Homo sapiens: one gene and its partners. The protein of the gene in region 3 purifies or fractionates together with the protein of the main gene of each other region. This does not show direct contact. Each region holds a gene or a part of one and is shown on either strand. Other genes may lie near its edges.

Region 1 (3,537 bases), on a different chromosome or scaffold from region 3:
TTTGGGGCCCCCAGTGTCACATAGTGTCCCTTCCACCCTTCTTGTCTCTTCTTGTCGTTCTGCCAGCCCACCTTCCCCACTGCCACCAGCACTGTCCACACAGGGCAAACCATCACTGCATCCAGAAGGCCAGTGCTGTATACACAGCTTGCCAAGGGTTCCCAGCAATGCTGGGGTGGCAGGGCAGAAGCGACCGCCAGGCCAACCACACTCCTCACCCAGAGTCCCCTCCCCATACCTCGGGCACCCTGCAGCCACACCTTTGCTGCTCCCCTGCTTGGCATGCCCTCCCTCCTCACCACCTCTCCAAGTCCTTCTCATCCCCAACGGCAGGAGTTCTTAACCCTTCCGTGAGCCAAGGACCCCTCTGGCAATCTGGTTAATCCTATGGACTCCTTTGAAGTATGTGAAATCAATTACATAGGATGATAAAGGGGACTACTGAGTACTGAAATAAAACTTCATCGACATTTGTGCTTCCTTATGAAACACATTGAACAGCGAGAACTAGCAAGAGATCTAATAAGTAGTGTGATGCTGAAACACTGATAGATGTGAAGTTCAAGATACCTGCAACACTATGAGGTGATGGGAAGGCATCTGTGATTTCTATTGGTGGTAAAGCCATAGGCACTGCTAATGTGACTGAGTGTCATTGCCTACATTCATCATTGAAGGACAAATCAGACGTCCTTCAGTGCTACGGACGGGTCAGTGGTTAGTGAAGATAAAGGTGCAATGTTTTCCAGCCCTGTCTGCTGACCTGCTAAATTCCACCCATGGACTACTCAGGGGCCCTCATGCTGCAAGGCTCAGCCCTAACTCCACTGCCTCGCCCTCCTGTGAGTTCCAACCACATCATGGTAGGCTCTTTCCCCCAGGCCTGAGTTGCCCTCCACAGCCCTGAGCACTTGCTAAGCGCAAGGCATGAACCCCAAATGCTGATCAGATTGAATTTTCCTGCACCTGTCATCCAAAGTGGGGTGAGGGGCTAGGGAACCACTGCTTCCCTCAGCCTCCTGGAAGCTGGTGGCTGGACACTCTTAGGGCCTGCTACGTGGGCCGTGACTGGCAACTACTACGGTGGCTGGTGACTTATGTTCTCCAGATGCCATGCCCGGAGTGGTCCCTCCCTCTTTTGGGCTTTACCAGCTCCGGAAATTAGCTCTCCCCTCCCTGGGCGCATCTATGGGTGTTCTGGTTGGCTGCCCCAATCCCATCACCAGCCCTTCAGGGCAAGGCAGCTCTGAGCCTGCAGCTGACCACAGGGCTACACCGTGCCGGGCCCCGTGCCGGGCCCCGTGCCAGGTGTGTCCTCACCTGCTTCACGTTGTAGCCAGTCTTCGCACTGGTCTCAATGAACATGACGCTCAGTTCTTTGGCGCGCTGCTCCCCCTCCTCGATGGTTATCTGCCTAGAGATGAGGGGAAGGGGGGAAATCAGCTCAGCAGAGAAGCAGACCCTGGCAGATATGAGGAGGGACCCACCCAGCAGGGCAGAGGGAGCCCACTGGGCCCTTGGTCAGTCCTGAAGACAGGCTCTGATCCCAAGGGTCCCTCCCGGGCACCAACCACAGTCTCGCTAGCACAAAGCAGGCACCAGGGAACAGTAGGACACTATCCGCTTCCCCCACTCCTTCCTTTGTGTCTTCTCAGCTTCAAAGCAGGCCCTGGGGTAGGGCTGCCCCATACCTGCCTTTCCCAGTAGTCACTACTGCAGAGCCTGTGCTTATGAAGAGATTCAAGCCAGGCAGTGCCACTCTGGGTGGTATTATCAGTCGCATTTTCCCTGTGAGAACACTAATGCTAAAAGTGTCTCCCCCAGGGCCACAAAGCTACTTAGCAGAGAGGGCTCCATGATGGGGCAGGCAGAAGTGGGTGAGGGTATGAAGGGCCTGGGTACCCTTTGTACTGGGATTTGAGCCCAGTTTTCCTTACTTTAAGGACAGAACTCTAGTAAAGCAGGCTCTAATTCAGATGATTCCTCAGGTGGTCAAGGGACGCTGCAGGAAGCCCACACTGCTTGCTGGAGTCCATGGCCTGTCACTTTATCTGCCCAAGTCAGGGTCATGTAAAATGAGTGGACAATGTACACACATGGCACCTCAGTTCTCCCTGTGCATGGAGGGCAGCATGGAGGAGCCTCTTCAGAGAAAGCTTCATGCCAGACGCAGCCACAAACCAGGCTAAGCAGGCTACGGCCATAGGTTTGTGGTCTGAATGCTCTGCATGCTCACACCTAGGGCCCAGGGCATTCACAGCCCCACGCACATTGGTGCAGACACTTCACAGGCACAGACAGTTCACAGTGCACACGCTGGGGCCTAGAGGACTGCTGTGTCTGGGGCAGGGCTGTGGCCATGGCAGGGCCTTAGACCATGCACTGCTGGGTCAAGCCAGGTGCACAGTGCTCTGTGTAGACAGCAAACGGAGAAGTGCCCCGCCCCTGCCTGGTGGTGGAAGACAGGGCTTCACAGATGAGATACCCATGGATGAGAGTCTACCAGGTGTCCTCAAAGCTCCTAGTGTCTCAAGGGACCTTTTCCGGATGCATGGTCAGAAGCACAGACACACCACCCATGCATCCCAGAGCTCCCTGTCCAGGAGCAGTTACAGAGGAGTGGAGGGTGGCACCCTGCACCTGTGTGCCCTTGCACCTACCTCTTATCAGCCAGGTCCGTCTTGTTGCCCACCAGCATGATGATAACATCACTGCCCCTCTCTGTCCTGACGTCGTCGATCCACTTAGAGGTCTGTTGGAAGGAGTTGAGATCTGGAGGCAGAAAGTGAGGATAAACTGAAAGCCAGGGCCAGCCACCAGTGGGAGATGGGAAGGGGAGGTGTGAGCCAGGAGCAGGAGGGAGGGTGAGCATGTGCCCTCAGATACCCAGGGAGGGGTGTGAGCTCAGTCAACACAGATCAGCTGGGTAGGGCCTTTCAGAGGGAACCGGGCCCTGCCCTGCGGCCCTGGGGAGCCACTTGCACTGTTCAGCCACCCTTTGTGGGAGAGGAATCACCCCATCTGGAAGATCACAGTGTCATGATTTGCCACATGGAATAGTGGCTTTAGGGGCCCACCTGAGAGACCTGACTCTGGGGATTCAGAGTGGAGAGTGAGAACTGGGTCACACGTGTGTGTGCATACACACACACACACACACATGCGCGCGCGACTTGGCAAGTTTGGGAACAGTGAGGGTGGGCAGAGGAGGACACAGCAGCCTCTAGGGAAGGAAGGGCCCTACTGAGTGGTGTCCCCACCATGGGAGCTCAGGAGAGTTTGGGGAAGGCCAGAGGGGTTTCTGAAGAGAACCCTCAGGCTCTGCAGATGAGAGGAGGGGAAAGGTGGCCCCGGGACTAGTCAGGGGAGCCAGGTGCACTCAAAAATCCAGGAGAGACAAGGCCACTTCTGGGCAGCCTGACCCCCCTCAGCTGCCATGATAGGCCTTGCAGGGCAGAGCAGCTATAAGGCAATACCCACCACTCGGCAGCCTGCACACCCAAGGGGAGGGGAGGTAGCTGTCCTCAGAAGCCTCAG
Region 2 (3,537 bases), on a different chromosome or scaffold from region 3:
ATTATATATTATATAAAAATATAATATATAATATAAAAATATATAATCTATATATAATATATAATATAAAAATATATAATCTATTTATATATTATATATAAAAATATATAATATATAATATAAAATATATAATCTATTTATATATAATATTTATATATTATATATATATATATACATATATGCATGAATGAAATACTGAAACTCAAGGTCACTCCAATTCAGAAACAGGTGCTTCCTCATGGTTCTTACAAGCATTTCCTCTGGCCTTAAGGGGAACCCAAGCTGCAGGGCTTATTACTGTCCCTCGCTAGGTGAACAGTGATTACTGAAATCTGGTCCAATGCTAAGTCGATTTACTTTGTCAGCATGTAGGACTTCCTAACTTCTCTACAAATAATGGAGTAGAGTAGAACAGAATAAGTTCTTAAGAAATATTATTAATAACATTACAATTACTATTCTCAATTTTTAATATTAAGTTTTTAAGAAATATTATTAATAATAAAGTCCCTGCTTTATTATTCCTGGTACTAGCAGCATTAGTACCAGGAACAGTAGCAGTAGTTATATTTTACCTGTCTCCCAAGACCTACATCATTATCAGAGCTAATAAATTGGAAATACTTAGGTCAATCATTTAAGCTAGTATGGGGTTTTGTGATGACTCTAGACAGAGAAAATAACCCCCAAATAATGCTTAGTACTTGAAAAAATAATCTTCTAAGCTTTCTGTTTTAAATAAAATGTACGTATAGCTTTAAGTATATGCAAAGCATAGATTGCTTAAGAAATACATAATATATAAATTTCTATCATCTCAAAATCTGTTGATTTGTTTTGAGAGTAAGCATTTTCAGGGACATTTAAATAACATTTGTCTAAATAGGTGTTTTTCACTAGTGTATACCTGTATTTTTAGACAGAATTTTATATGCACATATATGTAGCAAATGCAAACAAATATTTATTATAGTCCACTTTTTAAAAGATACCTTCACAGACTTCTTGTACCTGGGTATATATTGCTTGTACATACCCGTGTCATTAAAGTTTTTGACAGCATAGAAATGGGTGTATGAACACAAGGGTACATATGTTTCCTCTGATATCACAACCAGCATGTTTTCTCCTAAGGACAATAATGTTTGGTATATCATTGGCCAGAACTTGCTGATTCTTCCCCAGGGCATAGTTTAGCATTAATTTTAGGTTGAGAATATAAGGCCTTTGCTTTTGTTCTATTTTGATCCCCCCAATTAATCAACCAACATGATCCTTATCAAGCGTCTCACGTTCTGAAACAAAATTTCTATATAGAGGTTTATTCTATATAGAGGTCACTGTATCAAAAATGTTGAGCAACGCTAAAGTAACAAAACATCAAAAATTCATGTTAGTACTGACATAGTTTTATTGAATATATATGTAAGTCATTTTTAATAAAACAAATTAAATACAAAATATTTATGAAATCAGTAAAATAACCACTCTGACATGGCTAATTAGCACATTAGTATTTTCTCATCATTCTTATTTTTAGTCTCTGACAAGAGAAAAACATTTTTTTATGAAAGTGTTCCTTTCACCAATACATTAGATAGATATTGGCACCATGAGGAAAATAATTAAATAAATTCCAATTCATTCACCATCTTTACATATTGACTCGGCTGTCACAGTCGTGAGGTTACTGGGAGTCCTTCTAGGGCTCTAGACTACTCATCCTCAAGGATACAAACAAAGACTGAAGATATTGGCTGCAAAAGCTATTACTGACACTCAGAGCACTTGCTCAGGGTTGATATTTGGCATTCCAGTGGGCATACTGGAACTCATGCCAAGTTAGAAAGGAGGAGACTGGCTCTGGCACGTGGTAGATCCTCCTCATTGTGTAAAAGCTTGATGTCTTAAAAGAAGATCTAAAGACTGGCTCTTAATATTTCTGAAGCAAATTAGATATAGAAGACATGACTTGAAACTACTGACATTTGTTTTTTTTAATAACCTAATTTGTTTTTCATAAATGACTCTATATGGCTTTTTAATGTTCTTAGCTAAGGAAAAAAAAGTAAATCAAGGAATTGATTAGATTACTCACAATGTCACATTGGTATGTACATATATGCTACAGAAATAATTTTTATATTTATAGTAATCTAATATCTAAAATCCTAATGAATTACTATTTTTGTTAATGTTCTCAATATGGTAATAATAATATTTCTTGGGGTTTAGTCTTGTTGTTGACTTACTTACCCATTGTTTTCCCTACTTTTTTTAATCTGATGACATAAATGTGTTTTACATGAACTTCAAACTTTAGAGATAGTTTATCATCTCTACAAGCAAATAGCTTTGGAATTCACATTGAAAACCAAGCACCAGCGCTTTGAGGTCTTACCATAGCAATGACTGCTGCCCCAGCTCCAGCAAGTGCCACAATAAACAAGTGGAAGGTCATGTTCAGCTGCAATGGAAACCACAGAGAATCAAAAGGTGTCAGAGTTATAGGTAGAAGAGAAGTCAAGATTGCTACTGTCTTATAAACAAGACTTTGTACATCTTAAATAAAAGCGAGCCTGTGATAAATCACCCACCTGATTAAAACAGATTATTACAATATATTTTCCCCTGCAAATCATTTAAATCCTTTCAACTTCATCATTATAACATAATTTCATTATAAAGATGAGACAATGATTAATAATGATGGTTTTCATCAGTAACATTATAACAATATAAGGAGGGCTATGCTCTCTTTAAAAACAACTTCATCATGTTTTCAGCCTTCATTAAAATGAGTTTCCAGAAAATTTGAAATAGTTATTATAATTTTTATTGAAATATGCAGAGCATCTAATTCCTATTTATCCTCTACTCCTCCTGAATAACACTACTTCAGGTAAAATTGCCTCTGATAGAATAAAGGGAAAAGTCAATATAGATTTAGTTTTAATACATTATCCAAATAATAAAAAATGAATGCTAAAATTCTGACAAAATTAAAGGCTGTAAAAACACTCACCTCAGTAGATTCGCACATCCTCAAGAAATTCTCAGAGACAGTACAAATTTTCTTTTCCTCTCCAATTGTCACAATTCCTACAATGTGTGGGAAATGACAGTTTAGCAGTATAAATGTTTTGAAGAGCCAAGAGAGAAAAAAATGAGTTTTTGCTAATCAAATCTAAGCAAGTTCCATTTTATCTTATGTTATGTTACAGTGGAAAAATAATCTAGCTTTCATTGTGGATAATAACTATGCATAGAATTATGAATATAATATGCAAGACTATTTAGCCCTCAAGCAATTTAAATAATTTCAATCTGAATTCAATTGAATCTCACCACCAGAATTTCCAGACTCAATTATAGCCAGTTTATTGGTTTGGCCCATTAATGTGATAGTATAGGCATCACAATTATTTTGTTAACTATGCCCCAGACTGTGCTGAAGTCAGGATCTAAATTTGTTCAGCTGGTGCAGTGCTTCTGTTAATCTCTAAAAGCATACTGCCCAAAGGAGTACTTTTTTTT
Region 3 (2,899 bases):
TTATAGCTTCAAAATTCCAAAGGAAAATGATTTTGAGTCTAAAACCATAACTCAATTTAAAAAACTTTAAATTGAAGATTCAACATTTAATTACTTGAAGATATGCAGCAGCACACCAGAAAACTAATCCTGGGATGCAAGAGAAAGCAATCAGAAGAAAACAGTAAAACTCACAGTGGCCTAATAACTATTTACACATACGCACCAAGATCCCAGGGATTAATCTAAAACTAAAATCGTATCTGATTACATCACAAAAAGAGGCTGAGGTGGGGAAGTGAAACAATGCTAAGGTTACTGACTTAATTGGGAGATGGATGGAAGATGTGGCTACTAATTAACTCTAAACTTAAAGAAAAAAGGTAATCACTAAAGAAATAGCAATAGGTTTAATTACTTCCAAACCACTGGAGGAATAACAAGGAGAAAAAAATAACAAGCCAGTAAGATGACAAAATAAAAACAAGAGAGCATGATATATAGAAAATACAAAGTAAGACAGCCAGGAATAGTCCAAATGTTTTAATAATCTCAATTAATATAAATGTATTAAATTTCCCAGAGCTGGTTTGATTAAGGAAAATAGAAGTCAATTATAGAGGATATGAGAAAAAGTAAAGTATTTCAGTTATAAAAGGCACAACTCACCAATAGTCATGTAATGCTTACATTTCAGAAACTGATTAAACGAACAATAAGATAGGAATGTAGAAGGCAGAAAGTTTGAACAATTAACAAGCTAAATCCAAAAAAACCTGTACCCAAAACAGGCAAAGCACCCCTCTACCCACCCAAAACTCATAGAATATTTACAAATATTGACCATATAATTCCATAAAGTAGAAACCATACAGGCTATATTATATCTCCTTAGAAATTTTAAATACACTTGGAATCTGAAATACCCATTAAAAATAAACAATAGTCACCATAGCTAAAGACTGTCAGACATACAGCCAAGGGAGTACTCAGGAGTATTTTCAGTCCTAAATACATTTATTATCAGGAAACAAGAAAAATGGAAAATAAAACTGTTTCTATAATATACCTTAAGGCAGTGTGGGGATCAACAACATCCCTGGAGATATGGTCATCAATGAAAGTAGTCCAGGAGTCCATGAATTCATTTATTAACCCATAAGCCTATAAAATGTGTATGCTAACTAGTAATAAAAGTACAAACTGTGTTATATTTTAGAATATCAACTCAGTTGTAACACTAGTTACTTCATCCTGAGTTGGTTGGGAATCACATCTTTGAATATATCAAAATTAAACTGAGTTCCTTGAAGTCAGACATGGCCTTATTTATTTGTATACCTTTAATATAGGCACAATAGAGGTACAAAGAGTAAGCACTCAACAGTGTTACATGAATTGAATTAGTTAATGTATAAGGCAGATAATTTCCCAAAATATGGGGCTCACTGGAGGAGTAGGGTGAAACAGAATAAACAGATCTGTATGGTGGGTACAAGGCTGGAAAACACTGGCTAAACATGAATCTTCATCTCAGGTCTGTGACGTCACTAGGGTCACATGCCAGGTGTTCCAAGATTCTGGAGAGGATTTTACCAACATGGAGGAGCTATCAGCTTTCTTACCTTTCTTCCTTGACAGCAAGATTCATGAACTTCAATAATCACAATGTTAGGAAAAGTTAATCTTCAACTATAACAAACTAATTTTTTACAAATTTAGTCCCTTTTAGCTGTATGTCAAAAGGACAGACCAATAGCTACAGCTAGTACAATGACTAGAACACAAGCTCAAATTCCCTGGTATTATAGGAGACAAAAAGATCTCAATAGCTTTCATTTACTTTACAATTTTTAAAAAGCTTCAATTAAGTACTTCAATTTTATCTAAACATAAAGAGGCCCCATCTGTATTAATATTTTAAACATTCAATATTTGAGCTATGTAAGTCGTGCTAGTAGGTGAATTTAAACATGTCTTAAATAAGGAATATTTACATTTCGAAACCTTCTGATTGTATTAATTTGATCTGGTTTATTTTTAAAATATTCCCCCTTGCTACAGAACATCTTCCTTTTCTGCATTAAAAACAAAATGGCTGTATTTCTCTGCCCAACTTTGCTTAGCTGAATCAATCCTTTTAAAAGCTTTCTTCTTTACTGCTAAACCTATCTTCAATTCTTAACTAACACAACATCAGTCATTCTTACATGAGAACAATACATTAAAATAAATACAAAGAAAAAATTCTCCCAGCAAATACTAGATTCAATCCCAACAATACAGACACAGTCTTAAAAAATCAGTTATTTTTTTATTTGCATAGAACCAAAGGAAAGACTTAAAATTCCAACATACATCCTACGAGGCTTACAATTTAATTACAAATCCAATTTTGACGGAAAAAAGGGTTTTGGTTTTCCTCTACTAACGAGGATGATACTGTTTCACATGCTTCAGTTATGTATGCTGAAACACCAGATGCCTATACATCTTTACTTTTCGCAGAATTAGTATCCAGTCCAAAAAAGTCTTTTTTGATGATGTACCGAACACACTGCAAAATCACATTTCTTTCATGTCGAATGTCCGGAGCTAGAAGCTAAAACACAATTTAAAAAAAGATGAGGTAGTAAATAAATTATATCTGGGAAATACAATCTAAAATATTGCATGTACCCTCACCATATAAAGAAGACAGAACAATAAGAAATATGTATTATATTCACTATTTTGCTAAAAAACGATGCAAGAACATGTCCTTTTAATTTATATCAAGACTATCTAGCTTTTTATTTATTTATTTATTTTGAGACGGAGTCTCGCTCTGTTGCCCAGGCTGGAGTGCAGTGGCGGGATCTCAGCTCACTGCAAGCTCCGCCTCCCGGGTTCACGCCATTCTCCTGCCTCAGCCTCCCGA
Region 4 (3,537 bases), on a different chromosome or scaffold from region 3:
TCCCAACTCTCCTGGCCTTCTTCTCCTCCCCTGACTCCTAGTTCATGAGGCCTTGTATGTTTGTGTGTGTGTGTGTGTGTGTGTGTGTGTGTGTGTGTGTGAGAGAGAGAGAGAGAGAGAGAGAGAATATGTGTGTTGGTTATGCTCTCTTAGACCCTGGGAATGGAGCTCACCTCTTCCCACAAGGCAGAACCAGTCCTGGGGCATTCAGACAACACTTAACCCGGTTGAAGGATTCCTAGTTAGTGAGCAAGAGCTGGCATCACACTTGGCCACTTTCTGGCTGTGAGACCTTAATCAAGTTATTACCGTGTCTCAGGGTTCTCTTTCTGTAAAGGGGGTCAACGTGAGGATTGAACTGTAAACGTACTGACATAGAAAACACGTAGAAGAGGGCGTGGCACATACAAGTGCTATTTCAGTGTTAGCTATGGAGCTTTCTTTTCTCTTTTTTAGGACTTTTGTAATTTTTAAAATTTTTGAGCATCTTTTACAGTGGGTCAAATATCTTATTTTGTGATGTCAGCAGTATAGCCCCTGAGCAGCGGCATGCCAGATCCAGTGCTGGAGCCCTTTCCCAGGCTGATCCCGAGGCCCTTTCAACCAGGGACGTGTAGCTCCAGGGTGACAAACTCCTCTCCTAGGGGCTCCTTCCACCAGTCCCCTTGTCGGTGTGTTCAAGAAAAGGGTAAAGAACTATGGGATGATTGGTTAGAGACAGAATAGGAAGGAAGGCAGCTTGAGAAGGAAGAACTGAAGTGAGCCGGAAGAAGGAAGGGGAGGCCTGCTGTTTGACAGTAGGGGAAGGCGGAACTTGGGTCGTGATCAGCACTGTTGAGTGAGGCAGGGTGAGCAGGACTGAGAGGAGGACACATGAGAACAAGGTGATGCTGGACCTGGCTGTGGGCAGAACGTATGCCAGGGGACATGGGAATCCTTGATGCTGTGGCCCAAGTTTGGTCATGCCAAGTTTTTATTATATTTTGCTTACTCTTTCTTCCCCAAAGGAAATTACAATGGCTGTTTAAAAAATGATTCTATAAATGAATACTTTTTGAACTGATGCATGCAAACAGCAATTTTAAAGAAAATAGAATTGCATAGAAGGTATCAGAGTGTATTACAAAGAGTGGAGTAGGTATTGCCATGTGAGATTTTTGTTTCAGTTTGTGTACATTTTTTAATGTAAAATACATTTTTTATTATGGATAGGGAGGCCAAAAATGCTTGAGAATCTCCACTCTGTGGGCAGGGCTGGTGAATGCCCTGGTGCCACCATCTGCATACTCTACCAGGTGGTGGTTTGGAAGCTATTGCTCAGCCCCCCTCCTGTCCTGCCCCAACCCCTGCACACTTAGTGTTGAGAAAAGAATGCCTAGCATTGACAATGAGAGACTGGGAACTAGGAACTATTAGAGATATTTGCTTTAGGAAGCAGGGCCTCATGGAACTGGAAAGTGGAAGGAATTGTGAAAAGTGCTAATGTCTCCTTGAAAACTGGATCATATTTTTGTCATTTTCTTTCTTCAGCCACCCCCACTCACACACACCCCCACACCCCTGCCCTGAACACCTCGCAGAATGCCTGATACAAAGTGAACATTTAATAAATGCTTATTGAAGCAAATGGCTAGAATTAGAGCCAGGTGATCTTATATGGGCTCCAAGAGAGACGGCTGGGTGTTTTTGGGGGTGAGATGATGGGAGGGGGTGAGAGGATGGAGTCTACATCAATCTTCACTCACATCCAAGCTAATGGAAAATGTCTAATCCCTTGCTAGGTGTTTACATCTGTGACTTAGCTAGGTGCCCTCTCGCATGACACACCACCTCAAGTATTGGAATCTCATCTTGGGCTAATTTTCGAATGCTGATGGGTGTATTGATCTGGAAACAAGCTGGGTTAAAAAAGGCATTGGTCTTTTACACAGACTCAGCCCAAGCTAATCCGCTGTCGATATGCCTGGACTGAGTATTATCGACACTTTAATGAATAGAGGACCATAGTTTTTTCAGAGCCAAACTGACCCCCTCTTCAAAGCGATCAGACAAACTAAATAGAGCCAGATTCTTGTGTTTCTGTATTGGAAAGAGGATGCACCACCATCCTGGATTACAAAAAAAAAAAAAAAGGGAAAGAAATATATTTATCTTGGGATCGTTTATTATACCAAACATAAACCCTAATTCCCCTAGCAGAAGCTGACTCTCTGGATTTGAAGTTGCTATTCAGCCCTGAGCTTCTGGAATAAAAGTTGGGCATATTAGGTTTTCAAAATGGTATTATGATCCTTTAAAAAAAGAAATAAAAACAGCAACAACAAAAAGGAACTAAATTGATATTCTGCCCATGAGTATGTGTATTTATGTATATGTAGTCACCTTCATATCTAAATAAATCCACACAGAAGGAAGGTAGTGGCATCTCACAGCATTGCACAAGCTGCTTCAGGTCTGGGGTATGTCTTTCCCCTTACTGTCAAATATCCCATCTACCCCCTAGTTCTCTGTACTGGATTTTCTTCCCCTGTGGTTCTGATCCAATATGGTTATTTCTTGCAGACAGCCGTGAGGCCAAGGCGACCACATGGAGCAAGTCTCTGGGGCAAGCTAGGAGCAAAGGGCATCCTGGGGGAGGAGGGTGACCCTGGAGCCAGTGTGGGAGGGAGATGGAGGGGGAAGGCGGCAGAAAGGAGGAGACAAGAGAACTGAGCCAAGTAGCTACTTGCCAGGGTGGCTATTTTAAATTAAATTTAAATTAGCTACAACCAAACAACATTTAAAATTTACTTCTTCAGTCACACTAGCCACACTGCAGTGCTTCCATAGTCATGCAAGACTACTGTTCCCTTGTGTTCATTTTGCATTACTATAAAGGAATGCCTGAGGCTGGTAATTCACACACATAAAAAAGAGGTTTATTTGGCTCATGGTTCTGCAGCCTGTACAAGCACAGCACCAACATTTGCATCTGGAGAGGGCCTCAGAATGCTTCTATTCGTGGCATGGCGTGAAGGGGACCCAGTATATGCAGAATTGCATGGTGAGAGAAAAAGCCAGAGACAGCAGGGACGGTGCCAGGCTCTTTTTTACCACCAGCTTTCGAGAAAGCTAATAGAGCAAGAACTCACTTGCCCCACCCCCTGCATTTATCTATTTATGCTCCATCCCCATGGCCAGACATCTCCCATTAGGCCCCCACCTCCAATTTTGGAATCAACTTTCCACATAAGATCTACGGGAACAAATACCCAAACTACTGCACTCCTGTGTTGGACAGTGCAGAGAGAGAACATTTGTGTGAACTTCCATTGTAAAAAGCTTTATTGGATAGTGCTATAAGGGGTTACCATTATGGATCAGCAGGTGTTAAAGCTAGAATGGCTTTCCATGGCTTGAAGGGCTAGGTATATTGTGGAAAGGAGAGTGGAATTTTGGAAAGAGAATGGAAATTTTAAATAGATGGTGCTCTTTTAAAAACAAGAGAGAATTGTTGAAAAAGATGGAGTAATGGATTTCCTAGGTTAGCTTCAATTG

The links.
Region 1: the proteins of NUFIP1 (region 3) and RAB6B purify together in Homo sapiens (affinity purification with mass spectrometry; 3 studies listed by BioGRID and IntAct, with this or other methods). This does not show direct contact.
Region 2: the proteins of NUFIP1 (region 3) and GPM6A purify together in Homo sapiens (affinity purification with mass spectrometry; 3 studies listed by BioGRID and IntAct, with this or other methods). This does not show direct contact.
Region 4: the proteins of NUFIP1 (region 3) and NTM purify together in Homo sapiens (affinity purification with mass spectrometry; 3 studies listed by BioGRID and IntAct, with this or other methods). This does not show direct contact.

The regions. Positions count from the first base shown.
Region 1 is NC_000003.12:133,836,846-133,840,382, forward strand, and holds part of RAB6B (ras-related protein Rab-6B), read right to left. Parts: intron 2,773-3,537; coding exon 2,661-2,772; intron 1,415-2,660; coding exon 1,321-1,414; intron 1-1,320. UniProt on the Homo sapiens protein: The small GTPases Rab are key regulators of intracellular membrane trafficking, from the formation of transport vesicles to their fusion with membranes. Rabs cycle between active GTP-bound and inactive GDP-bound states.
Region 2 is NC_000004.12:175,637,728-175,641,264, forward strand, and holds part of GPM6A (neuronal membrane glycoprotein M6-a), read right to left. Parts: intron 3,103-3,537; coding exon 3,026-3,102; intron 2,468-3,025; coding exon 2,402-2,467; intron 1-2,401. UniProt on the Homo sapiens protein: Involved in neuronal differentiation, including differentiation and migration of neuronal stem cells. Plays a role in neuronal plasticity and is involved in neurite and filopodia outgrowth, filopodia motility and probably synapse formation.
Region 3 is NC_000013.11:44,938,742-44,941,640, forward strand, and holds the end of NUFIP1 (FMR1-interacting protein NUFIP1), read right to left. Parts: intron 2,582-2,899; coding exon 2,465-2,581; 3' UTR 508-2,464; downstream 1-507. UniProt on the Homo sapiens protein: Binds RNA.
Region 4 is NC_000011.10:132,147,115-132,150,651, forward strand, and holds part of NTM (neurotrimin isoform 9 precursor), read left to right. Parts: intron 1-3,537.